Homo sapiens: one gene and its partners. The protein of the gene in region 2 interacts with the protein of the main gene of each other region in a pairwise test. Each region holds a gene or a part of one and is shown on either strand. Other genes may lie near its edges.

Region 1 (3,500 bases), on a different chromosome or scaffold from region 2:
TACAGCCAGGACCTAGTCCGAGGATCTCTTCTCAATTGGCTGTCACCAGTGCTAAACCAATTGTTAAATAATTTTAAAATTATCTCCTGAGCACATCCAGGCACCTTTGCTAAGTGCTTTGTGTATGTTTTATCTCATTTAATCTTACAGCAACCCACTGAGGTAGTTTTATTATTCCACTTTATAGGTGAGTGCACTGTAGCTTCAGTCCTTTGCCCACAGTCACATAGCTAGCATATGTCCAAATGATAGTCAAACCTTAGTGTCTGATTCTCTGAATCTATGTTGTCGTCTACTTTTTCTGTAACTTTTAATTATTAAGTAGTTAGGGTTCCTTCCTGACTATGGATTCATTTGGGACCATCACCCAAGATTAGTGAGAGATACTTTTTAAGACAAAGTTTATGATGGAATATTTCTTGGAATTCATAGCAGCTCAAAGTAAGTGTTAACTATTGGTGGGTTCTTAAGGACCAGCATGTCCAAGGGATAGATAGATTGGTAAATTACTGTATGTACCTGTCTTTTACAAAGCTATAAGATATTTAAGTACCCGTTTTGTAATTTTCCACTTAAACTGATATGTTTGATGAACTTGGCAGTCTAACTGCATTGGTTAAAAGGATGCACATTTATATTTCTAAATGAAATGGAATACTGAATTTAAAAGGTGATGTTTTCTCTATTAAGTATGAAAATAGATACAAATCTGGCCAGGCGCGGTGCTCACGCCTGTAGTCCCAGCGCTTTGGGAGGCCAAGGTGGTCAGATCACCTGAGGTCAGGAGTTCGAGACCAGCCTGGCTAACATGGTGAAACCCCATTTCTACTAAAAATACAAAAAATTAGCCAGACGTGTTGGCGGGCACCTGTAATCTCAGCTACTCGGGAGGCTGAGGCAGGAGAATCGCTTGAACCCAGGTGGCAGAGGTTGCAGTGAGCCAAGATCTTGCCATTGCACTCCAGCCTGAGCAACAAGAGCAAAACACCATCTCAAAAAAAAAAAAAAAGGGCCAGGCACGGTGGCGCACGCCTGTAATCCCAGCACTTTGGGAGGCCAAGGCGGGTGGATCACAAGGTCAGGAGATCGAGACCATCCTGGCTAACATGGTGAAACCCCATCTCTACTAAAAATACAAAAAATTAGCCGGGCATGGTGGCGGGCACCTATAGTCCCAGCTACTCAGGAGGCTGAGGCAGGAGGATGGCGTGAACCTGGGAGGCGGAGCTTGCAGTGAGCCAAGATCGCGCCACTGCACTCCAGCCTGGGCGACAGAGCGAGACTGTCTGGGAAAAAAAAAAAAAAAGATACAAATCAAAGTACTGAATCCTTGGTAACGAGACATTTAAAACACATGCACATACCCACTACTTAAACATACTTTGAAATTACAACCATTTGGGGATGTTTTTAGCATTTGTGCTTGAAGTAGATCAATATTTGTAGTTGTTTTAGTTCCATTTGTCACTGTTAACTTTCATTTGTACCTCTGGAATTAGCAGTGCTGTATTCAGCATTGGCACTTAAAATATTTTATAGCTCTTAGAACACTATTTTTTAAATTACATTGATCTTTATACTCTCCTAGGATTCCAGTCCTTCCACAAATTATTATATGCAGTTTTCTTTATACTGTTCCATTCTTCAGACAGAGTTCAGGTTGTAGGATCATCTGAATTTTCTTAGTGAAATACAAGCCAGTAGAAACCAAAGCTCGTGTTTTTCTACTGTATGACTATGGGAGCTCTCAGTATAGAGAAACTTGATCATACCTGTGATAGATATAAAGATGTAAATTAAAGTCTAGTTAGTGAGTTATTTGAGGGTAAAGCCAGAATAGGAAAACATTTTGTTTCTCTTTTCCTGGGCTTCACAATCTTTGGAGAATAACTAATTTTATTTTAACTCTAGTGTTAGAGGCATGTATGTCTTCTGGTAATCAGTAATAGTAATTCATTTTACCTGTTTGTTTCTCACTGTTTTATTCTACTTAGAAGAAGACATGATAGGATTGTGAGTTTTTCTCTAACTTTGGATGCAGTGAGATGACCAGTGTGTTCCAGTTAAAGAAGAAGAGTGTTTTAAAATCATAAACCAAATAAAGAATCCTACCTTACATTAATTTCTTGCACTTCTTCTGTTCTCATCTCCATTTCTCTTTTTAACATGTGGAATTTACACTTCAGGTTTAAATTTCTTGTCAGGCCAATTACAGATTACAGTAGGATATGGTCTGTGTATATAACAACTATAACTTGTTTTAGATCAGAGTTGACTGCAATAATGAAAGGAGTGTCCACACTAAAACATTACAGAATACCTCCAGTGAAGGTAGTCGGCTGCGCACGGGTAAAGATCGTAACCAGAAGAAAGAGAAGCCAGACAGCGTGGATGGTCAGCAACCACTCGTGAATGGAGTACCCTAAACTGCATAATTCTGAAGTTATATTTCCTATACCATTTCCGTAATTCTTATTCCATATTAGAAAACTTTGTTAGGCCAAAGACAAATAGTAGGCAAGATGGCACAGGGCATGAAATGAACACAAATTATGCTAAGAATTTTTTATTTTTTGGTATTGGCCATAAGCAACAATTTTCAGATTTGCACAAAAAGATACCTTAAAATTTGAAACATTGCTTTTAAAACTACTTAGCACTTCAGGGCAGATTTTAGTTTTATTTTCTAAAGTACTGAGCAGTGATATTCTTTGTTAATTTGGACCATTTTCCTGCATTGGGTGATCATTCACCAGTACATTCTCAGTTTTTCTTAATATATAGCATTTATGGTAATCATATTAGACTTCTGTTTTCAATCTCGTATAGAAGTCTTCATGAAATGCTATGTCATTTCATGTCCTGTGTCAGTTTATGTTTTGGTCCACTTTTCCAGTATTTTAGTGGACCCTGAAATGTGTGTGATGTGACATTTGTCATTTTCATTAGCAAAAAAAGTTGTATGATCTGTGCCTTTTTTATATCTTGGCAGGTAGGAATATTATATTTGGATGCAGAGTTCAGGGAAGATAAGTTGGAAACACTAAATGTTAAAGATGTAGCAAACCCTGTCAAACATTAGTACTTTATAGAAGAATGCATGCTTTCCATATTTTTTTCCTTACATAAACATCAGGTTAGGCAGTATAAAGAATAGGACTTGTTTTTGTTTTTGTTTTGTTGCACTGAAGTTTGATAAATAGTGTTATTGAGAGAGATGTGTAATTTTTCTGTATAGACAGGAGAAGAAAGAACTATCTTCATCTGAGAGAGGCTAAAATGTTTTCAGCTAGGAACAAATCTTCCTGGTCGAAAGTTAGTAGGATATGCCTGCTCTTTGGCCTGATGACCAATTTTAACTTAGAGCTTTTTTTTTTTAATTTTGTCTGCCCCAAGTTTTGTGAAATTTTTCATATTTTAATTTCAAGCTTATTTTGGAGAGATAGGAAGGTCATTTCCATGTATGCATAATAATCCTGCAAAGTACAGGTACTTTGTCT
Region 2 (3,500 bases):
GTAGGTAGTTATCTATACGCCAGGAATAAGTAATAGGTAACACCTTCCTGGAATAGTAATTTTGCCAGTGAATAACTTTAAAAATCTATTTCATATTAAAATACAGATGTATTTACAGAATAGAATGCAAAAGTTCCATGAACATAACACTGGTCCGTGAACTTTTAAGATAAGACACAATATTTCAAAGAAATTTCATGTTCGTAGAGGAGCCTGTGGGTTATAACTCCAGTCTCTCCAGGACTACCTAGTTCCTATCATCTGTCCTTAGACTACTTTTTTTTCCCCTTTGTTGAGATAGGGTCTTGCTCTGTTCCCCAGGCTGGAGTGCAGTGGTGTGATCTCAGCTCACTGCAACCTCTGCCTCCCAGGTTCAAGTGTTTCTCGTGCCTCAGCCTCCCAAGTAGCTGGGATTACAGGAGTACACCACTACAACCAGCTAATTTTTTTTTTTTTTTTTGACACAGTCTTGCTCTGTTGCCCAGGCTGGAGTGCAGTGGCGTAATCTTGGCTCACTTCAAGCTCCACCTCCCAGGTTCAAGCGATTCTCCTGCCTCAGCCGCCTGAGTAGCTGGGACTACAGGCACATGCCACCATGCCTGGCTAATTTTTGTGTTTTTAGTAGAGATGGGGTTTCACCATGTTGGCCAGGCTGGTCTTGAACTCCTGACCTCAAGTGATCTGCCCACCTCAGCCTCTCAAAATGCTGGGATTACAGGCGTGAGCCACCATGCCCGGCCCTTAGACTGCATTTAGTAATGACGAAAAAGAACATGCAGGTCATCCTAAGGGACTTTCTTATGTAACATCATCTGAATACAAATAAATTATTTGTTACTTTTTCAAAATATTGGGTTAGACTAACTGAATTGTTAGCAGTATATTTAGTCTAAATTGTTAGTAGTATATCTTCTTGAAGCTATGAGTATTGATGAGGCCAGATAATCATAGAAAACTGTTTAGCTAAGAGAAGAAATCTTCAATTTTACAGGAAACTATCTGAAAATACCTTATGAAAATTTTACTAGATCTTAATCTTAGTTTAGAAATTCATTTTACTTAAAAAACTCTGGTGCATCTCCATTATTAACTAAATGGCTTTAACGTTTTTTATTTCTCCATCAGCCAGAGAATAACCAAAAAGCACTCTCTACCAAAGCCAAGAACAAAATCAATCCCTAACACTAAAAAAGTCACTAGCACATTATTTTGAAAAAACATATTAGGTTTTATTAACATTTAATACAGTACTAATATTCATAAACAATTACTATCCCAACACATTAAATGCATTTAATAATTATGGTACTGAAATATGTAAGTACATGTATTCCAGAAATTTCTCATTCAATAAACTACATTTCCATCAAATAGTTTAAATATGGAAACAATTTCACTATGTAAGAACTTAGAGCAATTATACATTTTACAGTTATATTTTGCTTTAGAATTTTTCAGCATGCTTCTCATTTACTACTATTTCATCTGATTCTCACAGCAACCTGGTAAGGTAGTTAGGTCTGATATTATTACTATCTAAGAGATAAAGGGGGGCCGGGCACATGGCTCAAGCCTGTAATCCCAGCACTTTGGGAGGCCGAGGTGGGTGGATCACAAGGTCAGGATATCGAGACCATCCTGGCTAACATGGTGAAACCCCGTCTCCACTAAAAATACAAAAAATTAGCCAGGCGTCAAGGAAAAAAAAAAAAAGAGAGAGCGATAAAGGGTCTAAAGATCAAAGAAGATCCAAGACTTTTTTTTTTTTTTGAGACAGAGTCTCGCTCTGTCACCCAGGCTGGAGTGCAGTGGCGTGATCTGGGCTCACTGCCAGCTCCGCCTCCCGGGTTCACGCCATTCTCCTGCCTCAGCCTCCCGAGTGGCTGGGACTACAGGCGCCCGCCACCACGCACGGCTAATTTTTTGTATTTTTAGTAGAGACGGGGTTTCACCGTGTTAGCCAGGATGGTCTTGATCTCCTGACCTCGTGATCCACCTGCTTCGGCCTCCCAAAGTGCTGGGATTACAGGCGTGAGCCACCACGCCCAGCTGAAGATCCAAGACTTAACCAGTCACTTAGCTAGTAAGAGACAGATATCATTCTTATTAAAGTATTTCAGGAAAAAAAAAAGAGAGAGAGAGAGAGACAAAACCCAGGTCCTCCTGCCTCAGTCTTTGTGATCTTTCAATCAGATGACATTTGAGGAGCATTTCATAGCTGAAGAGAACAAGGAAACCATCTAGTTCAACTACTTTATTTTACAGATCAACCCAGTGAAGTTAGATGGTTCCCAGGGTTTATACAGAATTGCTAAGAGAACTAAGCCTAGAATCCAGGTCTCTGGACTCTCTCCTTTGAACAATTACTCTCAAAAATAAAGACAAAACCATCTAGCATTTCCTTGCCTGATGTCAGTTTTTAAAGAAAGAAATCATCACTGATGAGAAAAAAAGAATTCATTTCCAAATAACAAAAGAGTAAAGACACTATTTTCAAGCTGACAAAAAACAGGATGCACAACATATAATTAGCAATCAGCCGTTCTAGTTCATTTCTTGCTCAGCAGCTGCTGGGTGACACTCTCTTTACCCAGTTAAATTCCAAATGCTTCTGATGATCTTGGGTATATCTCATGGAGAACAGTATAGGACAGGGATCTGCCTTGGTATATCACACAAGTTTATTTAAAAATTAGCCTGAATTAGTTGGAATGACCTGTCAGGTTCCTGTTTTCCCTACTAGCCATGTGACTGAGCATTGGCTCATAGTATTTTTAACTATACCAGTTTTAAAATTAGATTGTAGTATATAAAATTCATACTTCGGAGGCTAAGGCGGCACAAGAGTTACAAACTGTTTGGGCTTTAGAGTTGGAAAATATAAAATGAAATCCCACCTCTAGCACTTACAAGCCATGGGACTTTGGGCAAGTGATTTAATATCTGAAACCCTATTCCTTCATTTGTAAAATGAGATGGTAATACCTACCCCTAGGGTGAGTCAGATATGCACAACAATTACTAGCACAGTACCTGGCCCATAAAAGGTAGTTATTACCATCACAGAATACGCCTCTCCCATTCTGATTCAGCAGCAATATCTACACTAAGATGATAGAACTAACTAAAAAAAAAACAAAAAACAAACAAAAAACTTGTGCTTAAAAAGACTTTTAAAACAGTGTTTTCATAATGAAATATTTCAGGCATACATGTAAGTGTAAATTATATAATAAACAGTGATGCACCCACAACTGAGCTTTGAAAAAATAAATCAAGATAATTTATTTAAATCTGCTCTTAAAATGAGACTTGGGATCTTGAAAAACAAAGATTTGCAATGTTATTTTCTGTTCAGCTTTCTAAGAATATTCAACACAATATATTCAGCAGCCTTACTATACATTTCAAGTATTTTGTCAGGCAATTACTAAGTAGTGTTTCTTAATACTTTGTGAGCACTACCTGTATTCTCTCAAGCCAACCTTTTCCTAATTCCC
Region 3 (3,500 bases), on a different chromosome or scaffold from region 2:
TCTCGACGTAAGTGATCACACCCTCAAGGTTTCCGGTGCTTTCTGGGTTTTGATTACTCTATTTTCGGAAAGAGCTTACCCATGTTCCAAATGTCCCATATACCATGATAGTAACGTCCTCTTGCAAGGTCTTTGAGTGTGTATGTTTGGATACACTGGCATAATCTTTAACAACAATAAAAGAATTTCTGAAAGAAAAACTAAGCTACTATCCACAACCCTAACACATTAGCTGTTTTCCCTTCTTCATGCTCTTTTCCAGCCTCCGTTTACATTTATGGTAAGAACTGCATAGCTGTGATCATAAGATAGGTACAACCTAGCATGCTCATCATAAGCCTTTTCTATGCTATTACAGAGTAATTTTTAGTGGGTATATAACAGTTCTTCTGAATTATTTCCTTAGAACACCTTCCAAAGGGTGATTACTAAATCTCTGGATATGGGCCTTTTGGTGGCTCTCAACGTATACTGCCGAAATGCTTTCCCAAAGAGTTTATAATATACATATGAGAAAAGTTTCACCAAAAAAACTCATTGATATTGGATATTACCATTAATTGGGGTAAGGAAGGAGGTCAATTCAATAGGTATAAAATGGCATCCCACCATTTTAATATGCTTTTCTTTGTAAGTTCTTCCTTACTTCATTTTTCAAAAAGCAATAAACTGGTTACAGTTCTTGTAAATCTCAAAGTGGTCTGATCTGGTCTTTAAGAGTTCTGTTTCTAAAATAATAAATTAGCTCCATGGTTACATAACCCTTGGCACTATAATTCATATAGAGAAGAAAGGGTTATAGACGAGAGCCCTGGGGCAGATTTTTACCCTTCATCACTCTCTGTCTCTAACAATAATAAAACACTACCAGATCTAAGCCCCTAGGATGGGCCAGGTGCTGTTCTCGGACACTTGGCCCACTTCATCCCTAATCCTCCCCACAACCATGCAAATGAGACTGTACTCTCCTGCTGTTACAGACCTGGAGACCCAGACTCGGAAGTTCAGTGACTTGCCACGTGGCTAGCAGGAGGCTGAGCCACGGCTGTCAGCCTCAAAGCCCATATGCCCATTTCTGCCATGCTCTTTTCCTTTGTCCCATCTTTCCCTCGATGATCATACTAATTACAAACTCAAAAAAAAAAAAAAGGTGAAGTTTGGTTTACCAAAAGCATTGTTGAACCTATGAAGCTCTCTGATAATTTCCTTTTTACATTTATTATGAAAGATTTCAAATAGTATATGTGAAATAAAGACAAGTATAATGAAACCCCATCTATCCATCTTCTAGCTTAAAAATTACCAACTTATATACAATCATCTTTCATCTTTACCCTCTCCACTACCCGCAGTGCCTCACTGACAGAAATTTCAGACATGGTATCACTCCATATTTCAATATGTATTCTCAAAAGATAAAGACTTATACTTGTTTGGAAATTTTAAAGGCATACGAAATCCTTCAGTGGCTTTAACTTCCCTTATACCTGCTGTATTTGATTTCTTAAATGTACTGCACAGGGAGACAGTTATAACCTATTAATCAAAACCCAAATCTCAGAGTCAAACATGAGGAGGACGACATGGTGTTTTTTCCATCTAGGAGTGGAGTTATAGGAATAAAGTCTCTCAGCTTTCAATCTTAACATTCTAAAAGTACTTATCAGAAGCATCTGACTATTCTTGAAATTCTCTGGACAAAATTCTCAGCCATCTTGATTTAAAGCCTTTGATTTCTTTTTTGAAGGATCAATTTATCCATTGATTTACTGATACAAAAACTTAACTGTGTGTCAGGTAGTATGCCAGGCACTGGCTTACTAAGATGAATGTATGCTAAAGTTCCTGCCTTCAGAGAGTTCTCACAAAGGCTTCAACTCTTACCCAAAAGCCTTGACACTTCAACCAAACTAAGTTATAAATCCAGATAGGGACCTGCCCTCAACTGAGCTGAAGGCCGTCTCACAATCCCCCATAACTGCTCTCCCTCCCAAAGCACCTATTTCCGAAGCCTTCAAAGACTGTTAAAAAAGAACACGGCTAGCCTGGCCAACACGGTGAAACCCCGTCTCTACTAACTATTAGCCAGCTGTGGTGGTGCATGCCTGCAATCCTAGCTACTTGGGAGGATGAAGCAGAAGAATTGCTTGAACCCAGGAAGCAGAGGTTGCAGTGAGCCAAGATCATGCCACTGTACTACAGCCTGGGTGACACAGTGAGACTCTGTCTCAAAAAAAAGGCCAGGAGCAGTGGCTCATACCTGTAAATCCCAGAACTTTGGGAGGCCGAGGCGGGCGGATCACGAGGTCAGGAGATCGAGACCATCCTGGCTAAGACGGTGAAACCCTGTCTCTACTAAAAGTACAAAAAAATTAGCCAGGCATGGTGGTGGGCGCCTGCAGTCCCAACTACTCAGGAGGCTGAAGCAGGAGAATGGCATGAACCCGGGAGGCGGAGCTTGCCGTGAGCCGAGATGGCGCCATTGCACTCCAGCCTGGGCGACAGAGCGAGACTCTAAAAAAACAAAAAGCACTGGACCTGGAATCGGATGATGTGACTTTGTAACCTGCAACTCCCGTGTGGTTGGGCAAACAACTCTGACGCCTCCTGCACAAGATAAAGTGAGGATTAAATGACACAGACACAAGAGTGGTATGTCAAATGTAAAGCTCTGGTCAACTTAAGATATTATCATTATTGCTGATCTCAGCTACCTCTTCAAACTCTGAGTTATTTTGACATTTTCCTCTTTTGAAATTTAGACTCATTGAGCTAGAAAAAGAACTTTGAGACTGTCTTCAACACCTTCATGTTTACAGATGATGAACATGTGAACCAAAGAATGATTAGCCTAAGGCCGAGGTCACAGACTGGCAGCCCATAGGCCACATTTCACCTAGAGTGTTCTGTTTACCCACCAGATGTTGACCCATTCAGTGTATTAAATTTCAATTGAAAAAATCAGGACACTGCATAAAAATATGGATTTCCAACTTCTCCTGATTGAAAGATCAGACAACACTGAACCCATGTTCTTGCATGGCATCGCTGGATGAAGCTGAGAAGAGGCCACCCCCTTAGATCGTGTTTGCCAAGTCCTCACTGTACCCTATTATCCCTTCACGATGGCCCAGGATCAGCTGCCATGATCATCTCATTCCTGGCCCCTCCATTCATTTTCCTTACCTGCCTCACTTACTGAGTTAGTGACCTTTGGCCTACAGTCACACATCTTAGTGGAATTTTCTTTAATGCCTACAGGAAATGAGATCCAGGCCTCATTAATTCCTTTTTGAGAAAAGTCTCACAATAGCCAACACGATTACAATCCAAAATCCCAGCGGGTCCTTTCAGAGACATTGACAAGATAATTCTAAAATTTATGGATGTGCAAATGACCTAGAATAGTCAGAGCAATTTTTTTTTTTTTTTGAGACAGGGTCTCTGTTGCCCAGGCTGGAGTGCAGTGTCACAATCACAGCTCACTGCAACCTCCACCT
Region 4 (3,500 bases), on a different chromosome or scaffold from region 2:
AGGCGTGTAGGAAGCCCTCAGTTGGCACTGGCTATTTTCACTGTCCCAAAGTCACTTGGTCACTTGGCTTGGCCAGGACCTGATCCACCCCTTTCCCCAGGAAGCAGTCTGCACACACACAGCCTCTCAGAGCTCATTCACCCAAGCCCTTCACTGTGCAGACAGACCGAGCCCCAGGGAGGCATGGCCACACAATAAGGGCCTGGGCCTAGGAGGCTGAACCTAGCGCCCTGGGGTCTCCCCACCTCCACCTGGCCAGGGCTGTGGTCTGAGGCCTCAGGGGCTCCTGGTGGACCTCACCAGTCGTCCAGGCGCCGCTGCAGCTCTGGGAGGAAGAACTGAGAATGGAACTGATAGATGGAGGAGATGTTGGAGAAGATGACCCTGACCACATCCTCTGGGAAGGCCTTGCTGCTGCGGGCTGTCTTCAGCAGCTCCTGGAAAAACACCTGTAGCCGCCACGACAGGTCACTCACTGCAGTGACAGGGAGCCACCCACACATCAGCCCGGGGGAACTAGGGTCCCACCAAGCCTACTGCATGCTTCCACCTCCCTGATCTCCCGGCATCCTCACAGCAACCCCGGGAAAAGAAGGCAGGGGAGGTTGTGTTCTGGCCACTTTACAGATGAGCAAGGCAAAGCCTAGAGATGCAGGGACTTGGCCAAAGGCTGGCAGCTGATGAATGCCATAAACAGGCCCAAACTGTGGAGGTCTTGGACTTCATCAGACTAGAGCTCCCTGCGGTGATGAATAACCCTCTAGCCTTAGGGCTCCTGAAAAACTATGAAAGGTAAGATCGTTGTGAGGTTGTGGGCATTGAGATGACAGATGAAGATACCGTGTAGGCCAGCAAGGGCCAGCTGGTGTGTTCTCTGCTATACAGGGGCCAGCCTGGGCACCACAGGCAGAATGGGGAGTACTGCTAACAAGACCTCCTGATTCTACCCCAACCCCAGCCATTGAGGTTAAAGGGCCAAGGCTTCCTGGAGTCAAAGCCAGGGCTCCTGACTCAGCTCTGGTGAGCAGGGTGGGAAGGCTGAGAAGGGGTGAGGTGAGGAGACCCAGGGCTGGGGCTCTAGAGGGGGGTGTCCTGGTCACTGGCCTGGTCTAGCAGGTGGAGGCGCGCCACATAGGCCTGCTCTGTCTCCAGCAGCTCCTGGACGATCTTCTTCTCTGGCTCCTGCGGAGGATTGGAGGGGAGAGAAGGAGAAAAAGGGGGAAGACAGCTTTGGTCTCCTCTGATGGGGACCTCGGTTCAGTCTCCAAAGTTGCTGCAGTGAAGCATGCCTCCCGGGATTCATGGCCTCCCGCAGTGCATCTGGGCCGGCCCTGGGGTGGCTTTCACAGAATGCAGCTGAGTAAGGCTGTGCCAGTTCTCTGCCTTAGCCTTAAGAGGCCTGGAAGCTTCCACCTGTGCTGTCTTGGGAGCTGTGAATCACTACATCAAGGGGTCTGGCAGCTCTGATAGGGAGACCTCATGGACAGGCCACGTGGAGAGGAGAGGCCTGGAGAATACACGGAGAAAGAGCCCAGCCCTGCCAGCATCCCAGCTGAGCCCAGTCTTCCGGCTGTCCCTGCCCAGATGCCAGACTTGCGAGCTGAGCTGTCTTGGGCATTCCAGCCCCAGCCATCCTCTGACTGCAGCTACTTGAGAGATCCCGCTGGGAACTAAACTGCGTCCGCCAACCAAATTCCTGTGTTGAAGCCCTAACCCCCAATGTAAGTGTATTTGGAGATGAGGCCTTGGAGGAGGTAATTGAGGTTAAATGCGATGATAAGAGTAGGGCACTAAACTGGTAGGATTAATGTCAGAAGAGGAAGACACACCAGGGATGACAAAGAAATGGCCATGTAAGGACACACTGAAAAAGTGGCTGTCTTCAAGCCAAGAACAGAGACCTCCCCAGAAACCAAACCTGCTGGCACCTTGAACTTGGCCTTCCAGCCTCCAGCACTGTGAGAAAATAAATGTCTGGTGTTGAAGTCTGGGGCATTTTGTTACGGCAGCCCAAGCAGAATCACACAGACCCCCGAGTGAGGCCAGTAGAAAAACCTCCCGGCAGCATCCCAGTCAACTCACAAAATGTGAGAAACAATAAACAGTTACATTCAGCCCCTACATTTTTTTTTTTTTTTTTTGAGACAGAGTCTCGCTCTGTCACCCAGGCTAGAGTGGAGTGGCGCAATCTCGGCTCACTGCAACCTCCTCCTCCTGGATTCAAGTGATTCTCCTGTCTCAGCCTACTGAGTAGCTGGGATTACAGGCGCCCACCACCATGCCCAACTAATTTTTGTATTTTTAGTTGAGACAGTGTTTCCCTATGTTGGCCAGGCTGGTCTTGAACTCCTGACCTCAGGTGATCTGCCCACCTCGGCCTCCCAAAGTGCTGGGATTACAGGCGTGAGTTACTGCACCCGGCCAGCCGCTACATTTTTGATAGGTTTGTTCAGCAGCGATTGAAAACCAGGACGCATTACTATAACCACTATCCCCATTTTACAAATGAGGAAACTGGCACAAAGAGACTCAAGTGACTTGCCCAAGGACACACAGTTAGTAAGCAGACGTGCTGGGATGTGACTCCAGGGAATTTGGGTGCACAGTATCTGCATGCCAACCCTTGAACTCTGCAGATGAGAAAACTGCAAGCCACAGAAGAGATCAGACTGGGCTTTAGTCTAAGGGCAGGACAGTTCACACTCAGACCTCTATTTCTAGGTTGAGATTGTTGTCTCCTCCAGTGGGTAAACTGAGGCCCCACCTGAGAAGAGTATTAGGTTCACAAGATGGAGACTGTTCCAAGCTGTGTGGCCTTGAATAAGTTCCTTAAAACTGTGTTTCAACTTCCTTGTCCAAAAAACTCCTACACGAGGGACTCGCGAAGTAATCCAGCACGGTGCGTAGCAGGCAGTTAGTGAATCAAAGGCCATTAAGCATGGGGAAATCTAGCTCCCAGCTGACCTCTGATCACACCATACCCCCACCTGGGGAACTGCTGGCTCTGGCTAGGAAAGCATGTGTGGAGGGGAGGTCAGGGAGAGCTCCCCACCCCAGCACCCCACACCTCTACCTCAGCCCTCAGGCACCTGCGTCCCCGATCCTGAGAGGGTCACAGGCTGGCAAGATTTCCTCCAGGCTTCGCTGGACAGCTTGTTCTTCAGGGAGTTCAGGTACCTCCTGCTGACTGTCCTGGGCTCAGACCCCACGGCCTCCCCGACATTCGTCTTCTCCCGTGGTCCTGGGGACTCGGGAGGCCTGCACTCAGGGCGGTGATGCACGTCCTCTAGCCTCTGGCCTCTGGGTGCTGCTTCTGGGGTCCTGAGGAGAAGAGACAGACCTGAGGGCTTCCTCCCTGGAGAACAGGGAAAACAGCAGCAAGTCCCTGGTGTGGATTTGGGTTGCCTGGTGCAAATCCCCAGTGCAGGGGCCCCTGGGTGCCTGGCTTTCTTTGGGAACATGCTGAGTAAGACTTTCACTTCTCTCCCAACACATTCTTG
Region 5 (2,513 bases), on a different chromosome or scaffold from region 2:
GCCCGCGTGCGCTGCACGGCCTGGAGCTGCCGCAGCTCCAGCTCCCGCGTGGCCTCGTGCTGCCGAAGCAGCAGTGCACACTCCAAGTCCTTCTGGGTCTGCTTCTTGTTCAGGTCCTGAGGCAGAAGAAATGCAGGGCCCGGGGCCTGGTCAGTATCAAGGAAGTGAGAGGCCAGGGCTCCTTGGCAGAGGGAGCTGGGGATGGCGGAAGAAACACAGGGCCCAGGGCCTGGTCAGTATCAAGGAAGTGAGGGGCCAGGGCTCCTTGGCAGAGGGAGCTGGGGATGGCAGGAGATGAGGGTGTAGGGGAGGCAAGCTCCTCCCTGGCCTGGGAAAAGAGGCCTAAGGAAATTCTGGCAGGGTCTGTTGGGGATGAGAAGTAAAAGGGGCACTGAAGCAAAGCTGAACTGTAACACTCGAGGGCCAAGGAGAAAGAAGACAAGAATGAGGAAAATGGAAAAGGGTGGGTCCCTGGGATCCACGAGTGAGCGGGAGGGGAACAGAGATTGGGATGCCTACCTCCCGCAGCAGGTCCTGGTCCAGGCTGTGCCGAGCCAGCAACATCTTGCGCTTGTACTGGCGACACTGCAGCTCAAAGTACTGGCGCTGCCGCCGCAGCAGCCCTGCTTCCTCCTCCGCCTGGCACTGCTGGAGCTGCTCCTTCTGCCGCAGCAGCCACTCGGCCTTCTCCCGCTTGGGAGTGCTGGGGTTCTCCTGGAGCTCCTGGGCGAGTGCAGAGGGAAGCAGGGTCAGGACCCACCTGGCTCGCCATCGGCTCCGCCCCCAAGCAGCCCTAGCTCACCTCCTTCAGCTGTTCCTTGCGAAGTTTGTAGGTCCGCTTCTGTGCCTCCAGCAGGGCAGCCAGCTCCTTCTTCTGCTGCCCAAGGATGTGCTGCTGGAACTTCCGCTCCTCGGCCTGGGCAGCTCGTGCCTCCTTCTCACCTATGGCCTGGTGCCGCCGGGCCAGCTTTTCTGCCTCTGCCCCAAAGCCAGCCCGCTGCGCCTCAAGCTCCCGCTGCAGCCGTGCACTGTGCTCCTCCCGTTCACCCCTCAGCCGTGACTCCAGGGCCAGCAGCTGCTTCTGGTGCTGTCGTCGCATCCGCTTATAGCCGCTCAGCTGCTCCCGCAGCGCAGAGTCCTGCTCATGCTCCTGGATCTGACGGCTGACCTGGGGAAGGAGAGAGGGTGAGAGCTGGGGCTCAGCCTGGCCCCTAGTTAATTAACACAAGGGGTCTTCCGTGGGGAAGAGCATGGGTTTTCAACTCATGGGTTTCATTCTCATTTAACACCTTCCTCACACACGGCCACTCTAGCCTGTTTCCTCAACTGGATAATGGTGATATTATCTACATCACAAGTTGGTGTGGCCGAATGATAAAAGGTGGCGAGCACAGGGCCTGGCACAAAAGTAGGAACAATCCATACTAATTTGAAACAGTGAGTCAGACATACCTGGGATCAAATCCCAGCTTTGCCACTTACCAAGCATGTGATCTCAAGTAAGTTAACTTCTCAAAGCACCAGTTCCCTCATCTGTTAAATGGGGAAATAATACCTCCTCATAGGGGCTGTGGGGTAAGTTCGGACTCTATCTAATAAGTGTTGGCTTCCTTCCCCTTCAGCAAACATGGTCGGCCTATCACTCCCCAGGTATTGAGGTGGGATCGGGGCCACAAGATGCTGGAATAACAAGAACACTGGGCTTGGACACCTTCATCCAAAGTCTGATCTCAGGTCTCATTCTCAATTGACTCTATGAGTGGCTCTCAAACTAGTCCCGGCAGCCAAGCCCCTGGCAGTCAAGACCTCTCAGCACAGTACCGCACAACACCATGGGATCTGAAGAATTGTTGGAACACAACCAGCACCAAGCAGAGGCCATAAGAACATACTAGACTTAATCAGTGGCCTCTAAGGGGATTGTTGACGCTCAAATGCAGCTCAGCAGGAACGTGATCTAAAAACATAGATGAAAAACTATGTTTTATGAAAAGCCTAAACACTTTTTCCTGTGAACTGAGAAAGACTGCCATGAGTTGATTTTAGGAGAGGACTAAGGGCCTGCTTACAGGAGCAGAGAGCCACCAAAGGCACTGGGGCAAGTGGCCCCTCTGAGCCACAGGTGCCTCATTTCTCCAATGGGATCTTACCCTTCCCCTCCCAGGGGGGCTGGGAGGGTTAACACAGGCCTGTGTGTAAGCCTGAGAGCTAACTGCTGGCATGAGACAGATATCTGAACACCATCCCTGCCCTCTGGGGCACAGAATCTGGCAAACCTATCATGATGCTGTTCAGGACCACCCAAGCACAGGGCACCCCCGGCACAGGGCTCCCCAGCACTGGACACCCCCAGCACAGGGCTCCACAGGCACAGGGCTCCCCCAGCACTGGGCTTCCCCAGCACACAACTGTGAAGCATCTGACTCACCAGAGGAGCCTGGGAAGGCAACCCAGGAGATGTCAGTTAAGTCAGGCCACAAAAACGGAGTAAGAGTTTGCCAAGCTAGAAACAC
Region 6 (3,500 bases), on a different chromosome or scaffold from region 2:
CCCTCCAGGGTCTCAGCTCCTGTGCCTTTGTGGGCCCTTCCCCCATACACAAATATTTAAATTACATTGTATAGCAAGGATAACCCAGGCTGGATTTTTAAATTTTATTTTATTTTATTTTTTGGGGGACAGAGTTTTGCTTTTGTTGCCCAGGCTGGAGTGCAATGGCGCGATCTCAGCTCAGTGCAACCTCTGCCTCCTAGGTTCAAGCTATTCTCTTACCTCAGCCTCCCGAGTAGCTGGGATTACAGGCGCCCACCACCACACCTGGCTAATTTTTGTATTTTTAGTAGAGACGGGGTTTCGCCATGTTGGCCAGACTGGTCACTCCTGACCTCAGGTGATCTGCCCGCCTCAGCCTCCCAAAGTGCTAGGATTACAGGCGTGAGCAACCGTGCCTGGCCCATTTTTAGATATTCATTATTATTGTAGTATTCATTTCCTCTGATTTTAAATGAAATTAAAATTAAAACATTTTCAAGGACCCCTGAGAATGCCATGCACCTATTGGATCTTGGCCCTGTGTGTGTTAGGTCTCACGGGGAAGCTGACCCTGCGCTGACCCTGGGGCTCCAGCCGGTAGGGGTCCAAGACTAGTCTTGCCTTCTCTTCTGCCAACTTTTAAACCCCAACTTGAGCAAAGTGCTCAAAGAAAACCATTCCCAAACTCAGACTGATCCCTGCACCCCAGAGCTGAGAACATTGGGAATGGGCCACCTCCGTCCCATTCACTGGCCTTCTGCAACTGCAGACCTTGGGCCACGCCTCCAAAAAGCTGTCCCTGGTTAATCTTGCCAGCACACCCCTTCCTCCTGGAAGCCCTTGCAGTGAATTGTCGGTAGGACCTCCAGAAGCTTCTAGCAGTTTCCGGTGAGCTGCTCAGCAGAGCACCCAGCAAAGACCAAGCACTAGTGTCATGGTTTCCCTCTGCAGCCCAGACACAGGCAGCCGGGGGCCTACCTGGGCGGTAAATCGTCCATGCTTTGGACTGCTCATCCATGTCCAGAAGGTGCCTGCTCTTCATCCTGTACAAGTCTCGGTTCACATCTTTTGCTGTCCTCATTCCCAGTGCTTGGGCGATGACCAGGGCCCTCTGGGGACCATTGTCTTTGAGAAACCTGTAGATGTCTTCCTCTGGGAGGCAGGATGGCCAGGTGGTTAGGGAGTAGTCCTAGGGTTTGCATCTGCCCCACCGCTTCCTAGCTGTGTGGCCCTGGACCCAGCCCCTCAAGGCCTGGTTTCCTCATCTGTAAAATGGGTGTCATGATAACGGGGTCATCATGACGCACCGCAGAGGTGCCCTGAGGGTGGGGGATGTGCACAGAGTGCTCTGCGCTGGGCCTGGCATGTGGCGGGTGCATGGTGAGGGTCAGCTATTGTCTGACTGGAGAAATCACTGCTCAGCCATTCAGATTCTCCCACTGTGAGGGCTGGGTCTTGGCTCTGAACACTGTATGGGAGCTGCCTGGTGGGTGGGACAGGGCCCCTGAACACTGGTGAGATCTTGTACCCTCAAGGAGGGCCTGGGGTTCCTGGGGAGTGGGATCCTGTGTCCCGGGAACTGAAGGGACATGCAAAAACTTACCCCGTTGTTGGCTGAACTGAGGGCCAGGGGTCTCTGGAATTGTAGCTGCATGTTGCTGGGGCCTCTCGGCTGCAGAAAGAAAGATGGGTCAGAGGGGTGGGGGACAGAAGACAGCACCAGGCCTCCACCCCACAAAGGTGGGCAGCTCCCTAGGGGTAAGTGGCAATGCCGGTAGTTGCAAACTCAGACTCCAGAGTTCAACACACTTGACTTCAAATCCTGCCTGCGCCCTGGCAGCTGCGGCTTCCTGCCGATTAACTTCTCCGGGGCTCAGCCTCCTTTGCCTCCTGGGGTTGTGTGAGGGCTGGGTGAACCCCAAAACAGTGCCTGGCTAATCTTAAGTGCATGATAAATGGCAGCTCCTTCTGGCTGTGGGCTGTAAAGCTAGAAAAGGGGGGCTGGTGGGACTGCATATGTTCTGTGATTGGGACCATGGCGTCATTGCTGTCTCCATCATGATGATTTTCTATTATAATTGTTAGTGTTCTGCAGAGTACCTCCTGTGTGCAGGGCTGGGCTGAGCCTGACGCAGGGCCTCCTCTCAGCAACCCCTACCAAGCAGCCCTGCTGTGAGCTCCATCAACCAGAAAAAGAAACCAAGGCACAGAGAGAGGAAACCTGTGAGCTCCCATGTGGCAGAGTTCAGATTCGAACCCAGGCTCAAATCTGTGCTTGTCCATTGCCAGGATGCTCCCTGCAGGGTCAGACCCGCCTCCCCGGGGTGGCAGTTACCAGGGCTGGACAAGGCCAGCTCTGCAGGACCCTCGCCTTCAGGATCAGTCCCGCCCAAGCACCAGGTGGCAGGGGATGTGAGGGAGACTTTCAACTCCTTTTTCATTCGGTAGAGGACTTGGTTGAGCTCCCTCTTGGGTGCTTGGCATTCCTTCACCAGCTGGGCAAGTTTCACCGGGGAGCCAGCCTCTGTCAGCACCTGCAGGATTCTTTGTTCAAGGTGGCCTGGGGGAGCGAGCGGGGGACAGAGAGGGGAACTGAGTCTCCCAGGTCCCCACAGTTGAGCCCAGGCTGGAGGCTCCAGGAGGCACGTAGGCCCCTTTTTGAGAGGGGTCCAGGGCAGAGGAAAGGGCAAGGACCCCAGCAGATGCCCCCTAAGAGCAGTAGGGCAGCTGCATCTGCCCAGAGGGAGGCATGCAGGCTGATCAGAAACGGCCTTGGCTGCGCAGCCTGGTGGCCAGGGGAGGTGCCACCTCGCCTGTGCCCTCCCCGGGTGTGGGTTCCAGAGGGCAGTGGGGTTCCTCAGCTCTCAGGTGTCCTCAGGGCAGAGGGGAGTAGAGGGCAGAAGGACGGAGCCAGAGGGAGGCAGGGGGACCTGGGAGCGCAAAGGCAAGTCCTGCCTGGGACGCCTGCCTGGGTTTACCTGATGCCCATCGCCATCCTCCCCGGGAGTGCCCTCCTCTCAGCTCACCATCCATCCATGGCGCCACTATCCATCCAAGCCAGAGACCGACCAGACATCAGAAACAGACCTTTCCCCCAGTGCCCAGTCGTGGAGCCCTGGAAATGCCATTCCTGGATTCTCTGGAATCCCCCCACTCCTCTCTTTTCTGCCAGCACCACCCCCTTCCTCTTCACCATCTCCTAGGTACAGTGATAGGCTCCCCGTTGGCCCGCCAGCTCCAGTCAGGTACCCTCCAGATCTGGCTCTGCCAACCACCCAGCTTGGCCTGCACCTGCCCCCAACTTCCCTCCAAGTGCTGGCCTGTCTGTGCTCCCTTCAGCCCCACTCTCCCCAGCCCCTTTGTGCACACTGTTCCTGCTGCCAGGAGCACCCTTCCCTCACGCCCCAACCTGTATGATGTCTACTCAACCTCCAGGCCTCCTCAGATGCCACTTCCTAGGGAAAGCCTGTCTCTGTGTCCCAGAGTGGCTGGGACGCTGCTTGTGTGTGGGTCCCCTG
Region 7 (4,124 bases), on a different chromosome or scaffold from region 2:
TCTTCTCCCATACTACTAGAACCCCTGATTTTTAGCTGGGCATATGGTTACATAGACTATTCAATTTCCCACACTTCCTTACAGCTTCTTGTGGTCACGTGACTAAATTTGGAGCCACGGGATGTGGGAGACAGTGATCCAAGCAGCTGCTAGGTTGAGTCCTTTAAGACAAAAAGCATGTCCTGTCCTTCCTGCTTTGTTCATCCTCCCCGGGGATAGAATGTGACTGATGGTTAGTATCCTGGACCATGGAGATGAGGGCAACACCCTTGATGTAGAAGAGCAATAAGATGGAAGGAGCCTGGGGCTGTGATTGGAATTACCATGTGAGTCCTAGACTGCTTATCCTAGGAGCTCTTAAGTCAAAGAGGAATAAATTGTTCTGTATAAGCTATGCTTATTTTAGGTCTCTATTTCAGCAGCTAATTCATGAGAGTACGAATTTAAAAATACTTGTGAGGTTCAGTGTCAACTGAATGATACGAACAAGATGAGAAACATACTTTTAAAGATATTTAATGATGTTTTTCAAATCAGTACAAAAATTTAAATACAAAAATGATTTGCTATTGACAAGTCTCAAATCTGTCATGGGAACTCAAACAAGTTACCAGTCTGTTCACCGTTCATTGTATTCTATAAAATATTTGATAACAGTCACCCACTACAGACATTCTTTTCCCCTGTGGGATGTCATACTGCATTAAAACTCTGTATTTACATAACAATAATATGAGTTTGGTCCATTTCACATGGAAGAATTCTGGTTAATTTTGAACTAAATAGGGATTATAGCACAATCCCTAGACTTTAGAACACGTGGTTGTTTCATCTGCTTTTACACTAATATGTTAACATGTTGTGCAGCACTCAAAAGGGAAATACAGGCACATAGATAATTATTTAAAACTCTTTTTTAAATTAAATGGAGTATCATTTAGGTCTGAGATTAGCACCATTGTAGAATGCACAGTATTTGGCATAGATGTTGCTCCTCTTCTATCTAAAAGTTAGAAACCTATGTCTGATAATACACATACACACACATGCGCACGCATACACACACGTGCGCTCACGCGCACACACACACACACACACATATATATATATATATAGGCAATTGAGTGACAACCAATAAATAAGTTGGAAGATATTTTGAAAAGTGAAATTTGGTTTTAACTAAAAAGATAATTTCTCTCTTTCTTGGTGGGAATTAAAAGCCCATACATGTACAGATAAATACAATTTTACAAATCACCTGATCTGACTTGCTTTTAAACCATTTCAATGTGGCTGTTTAGCAGAAGGAGCCCAATGGATCCATGCTGCCCACCATAGTCATCAGCCCAAAACCAGTATCCTCAAGAACAACCCAAAGTATATTTGGCCACATAGATGCTGTCTGCTTTGAAAACAAAGGTTGTGGAGGACATCTTTTTGTTGGGAAAAGATTGTTGTATAATTAGTAGTGACAAGAACCCCTGTGGTAATGGACTAATTTCTCTTCTTAAAAATTGAGAAGAAATGGTGCTTGTATACTATATAGGGAAATGAGATATTGGCCAAGAGAAGAATTTTTGTGATGGTAATAATGATTCAGATTTGACAAAGACACATTTCCATGTGTTTTCATACCGTATTTATTTGTGTATTTTTCCATCTATATCTATCCCCTTAACTCATGGTTTTATTTTTGACAAAAATATACAAGATTCCACCACCATAACCCCACATTATTGCTCCAAGTGATAGAGTCAGCAGCAGGCTAATAGCAGGCTCGAAATGGGTCTTTGGTGTTTGGAGACCAGATTAGAATGCCCAAAGCAGTTAGTATGTGCCCAAGCAAAAACCTGGAAAAATATTTATTTCTGCTTTTCAGACTTGTATTGGCCTTTGATTTGTGCCGAGTACAGGATGACATTAAAAACACAGGCTCTTGTTGCCCTTTGACATTCTACATAGCCCTTCCACAGTCCGCTTCTAAGGAAACAGTTCTTTTCCTATACTTTTACTACCTACACCCAGAAGCAGCACATCTGTTTTTAAATTCGAAATTTCAGAATTATTTTTTCAAATATTAATTTTTCTATGTAATTCTGAAACTCCCCCCTCACCAATTATGGCTTGGATTTTGAAAGCTGACTTTGGCCGGGCACGGTGGCTCATGCCTGTAATCCCAGCACTTTGGAAGGCTGAGGCAGGTGCATCACTTGAGGCCAGGAGTTTGAGACCAGCCTGGCCAACATGGCGAAAACCCATCTTTACTAAATATACAAAAATTAGCCAGGCATGGTGGCGCAAGACAGTAGTCCCAGTACTCGGGAGGCTGAGACAGGACAATTGCTTGAACCTAGGAGGTAGAGGTTGCAGTAAGCCAAGATCGTGCTACTGCACTCCAGCCTGGGTGACAGAGTAAGACTCCATCTCAAAAAAAAAAGAAAAAAATTGACTTTGGAACCTCAGATTACATATCAGTTTGCATACATGCTAAACAGAGAAATGTCCTCAAAATTCAGTTACTAAAAATTACTGATATCTCCATGATTAGAACCACACTGTGGTTGTGTGTGTAGTCAAAGGAGGAGAATTTTTAATGCTATATAAGCATAACTGATAACTGCTATTACAAATAAATATTCCACAAATTTGGAAAGTTATTAGAGGAAGAATTTTTTTTCCTTGTAATTTCCAGGTGTTTATATTAGTTGGGCCATAGTGAAAATTACATGGAGGAAAGAAAATAGGAAAATAAGTCACAGAAAAAGAAAATCAAAACAAATAGAAACTCTGGGGAACAAGTGAGTTAATTACTGCTCATGTCTCCCATCCGGTTCTCTAGCTCCTTGAGGGTTACTGTCTAATGCTCCACAAAAGTGCCTTACCCAGTGCTTGGTACAGAGAAGGCACTGAATAAATTCACAAAGGCCGATTGGTTCACCCATTCTTTTAGAGACAACAGACACGCAATTCTGACGAGGACTCCTGTTACTAAAAGACACAGCCTCTGATACAAGAGAGATATCCCTTTGACTAAAGCATTACCAGGGTCCCCAGGGCCCCCTCCCACTGGGGCGGTAACACTACGGGTCTCCCCACCATATATTCCATGTCAAAGTATCTACACAAATACAGAGGAAATTAAGCAAGTAAATACGGTATGTAATTGTTATCATTTGTATTTCTTTAAGGCATATTTATAAATATTTTAAAGTAAACAATATGAGTGAGTGCCTTTCATTAGCTATGATCTTTCATACTGATATATTTTGACTGATCTGAATAAGCAGGTTACTGTGGAAGCATATAACATAAAACAGCTAATATGATTCCAGTGGGTACAACCAAGTGTCAGTACTTGATACATAACTCTATCCCATCATTCGCAATTACAGGCTGCTGTGTGGAGTATTAAACATGCATCTTAGTTTTTATTTGTACACAATGGTCCAAATTTTCACTTACATATAACTTTCCAACTGTGTAAGTGTTTTGAAGCAATTATGTTTTTCATTTGGATTTTTTGGTGTGTCATTTTCTTCTATAAAATCTCTTTCTTTTCTTTGTTTTTTGTTTTTTTGTTTTTACATGGGATACAATAAATATCCTGAAAAGGAGGAGTGGACATACTGCCCGGCATACAGTCCTGCAGCCTGTTCTGAGGGCATCTGGAGGAACACCCGGTCTCCGGGCCTGAGCAGCAGCACTGCACTCCCAGATGCCTGGTCCAGGAAGCCCTTTTTGTACTCGTCGTACGTGTACATCACGGGCTCGTTGTTCTTGAATAGAGCAACCCACACGTTGCCCCCCTTGCAGTGAACGTGGTATGCAAAGTAGTAGACACCAGGGACCTCACAGGTGAAGATGCCTGTCTGCGGGTTGTAGTTCTGTCTGCCGTTATACAGCAGTTTGTTAAACTTCACTGGGGCCCCCACCGGTGGGAAAGGTGCGGTTAGCTCGGCGGTAAATGCAGGCATCTCATAGGCTGGCCCTCCATTCTTGCCTTTCTTAGCCCCGTAGGCATGGGGGGGTTTCACGCCATCAATTCCCAGCCCCATATCTGGCAGATACTCTCCCTGGGGTGGTGGTGTAGGGGGCATCACAGCTGGGGGTCCTGGAGGTCCTGG

The links.
Region 1: the proteins of KLHL12 (region 2) and FMR1 interact in a two-hybrid assay, tested with the Homo sapiens proteins (one large-scale study listed by IntAct).
Region 3: the proteins of KLHL12 (region 2) and CRTC3 interact in a two-hybrid assay, tested with the Homo sapiens proteins (one large-scale study listed by BioGRID and IntAct).
Region 4: the proteins of KLHL12 (region 2) and FGD2 interact in binary tests that used the Homo sapiens proteins (3 or more experiments, as listed by UniProt).
Region 5: the proteins of KLHL12 (region 2) and TAOK2 interact in a two-hybrid assay, tested with the Homo sapiens proteins (one large-scale study listed by BioGRID and IntAct).
Region 6: the proteins of KLHL12 (region 2) and ZBP1 interact in a two-hybrid assay, tested with the Homo sapiens proteins (one large-scale study listed by BioGRID).
Region 7: the proteins of KLHL12 (region 2) and COL8A1 interact in a two-hybrid assay, tested with the Homo sapiens proteins (one large-scale study listed by BioGRID and IntAct).

Annotation. Positions count from the first base shown.
Region 1 is NC_000023.11:147,946,419-147,949,918, forward strand, and holds part of FMR1 (fragile X messenger ribonucleoprotein 1), read left to right. Parts: intron 1-2,264; coding exon 2,265-2,426; 3' UTR 2,427-3,500.
Region 2 is NC_000001.11:202,920,735-202,924,234, forward strand, and holds part of KLHL12 (kelch-like protein 12), read right to left. Parts: intron 1-3,500. UniProt on the Homo sapiens protein: Substrate-specific adapter of a BCR (BTB-CUL3-RBX1) E3 ubiquitin ligase complex that acts as a negative regulator of Wnt signaling pathway and ER-Golgi transport.
Region 3 is NC_000015.10:90,536,423-90,539,922, reverse strand, and holds part of CRTC3 (CREB-regulated transcription coactivator 3), read right to left. Parts: intron 1-3,500. UniProt on the Homo sapiens protein: Transcriptional coactivator for CREB1 which activates transcription through both consensus and variant cAMP response element (CRE) sites.
Region 4 is NC_000006.12:37,008,655-37,012,154, reverse strand, and holds part of FGD2 (FYVE, RhoGEF and PH domain-containing protein 2), read right to left. Parts: intron 3,322-3,500; coding exon 3,090-3,321; intron 1,183-3,089; coding exon 1,105-1,182; intron 450-1,104; coding exon 301-449; intron 1-300. UniProt on the Homo sapiens protein: Activates CDC42, a member of the Ras-like family of Rho- and Rac proteins, by exchanging bound GDP for free GTP. Activates JNK1 via CDC42 but not RAC1.
Region 5 is NC_000016.10:29,983,868-29,986,380, reverse strand, and holds part of TAOK2 (serine/threonine-protein kinase TAO2), read right to left. Parts: intron 1,169-2,513; coding exon 803-1,168; intron 724-802; coding exon 520-723; intron 117-519; coding exon 1-116. UniProt on the Homo sapiens protein: Serine/threonine-protein kinase involved in different processes such as membrane blebbing and apoptotic bodies formation DNA damage response and MAPK14/p38 MAPK stress-activated MAPK cascade.
Region 6 is NC_000020.11:57,613,927-57,617,426, forward strand, and holds part of ZBP1 (Z-DNA-binding protein 1), read right to left. Parts: intron 2,543-3,500; coding exon 2,318-2,542; intron 1,655-2,317; coding exon 1,586-1,654; intron 1,135-1,585; coding exon 961-1,134; intron 1-960.
Region 7 is NC_000003.12:99,795,594-99,799,717, reverse strand, and holds the end of COL8A1 (collagen alpha-1(VIII) chain precursor), read right to left. Parts: coding exon 3,582-4,124; 3' UTR 501-3,581; downstream 1-500. UniProt on the Homo sapiens protein: Macromolecular component of the subendothelium. Major component of the Descemet's membrane (basement membrane) of corneal endothelial cells. Also a component of the endothelia of blood vessels.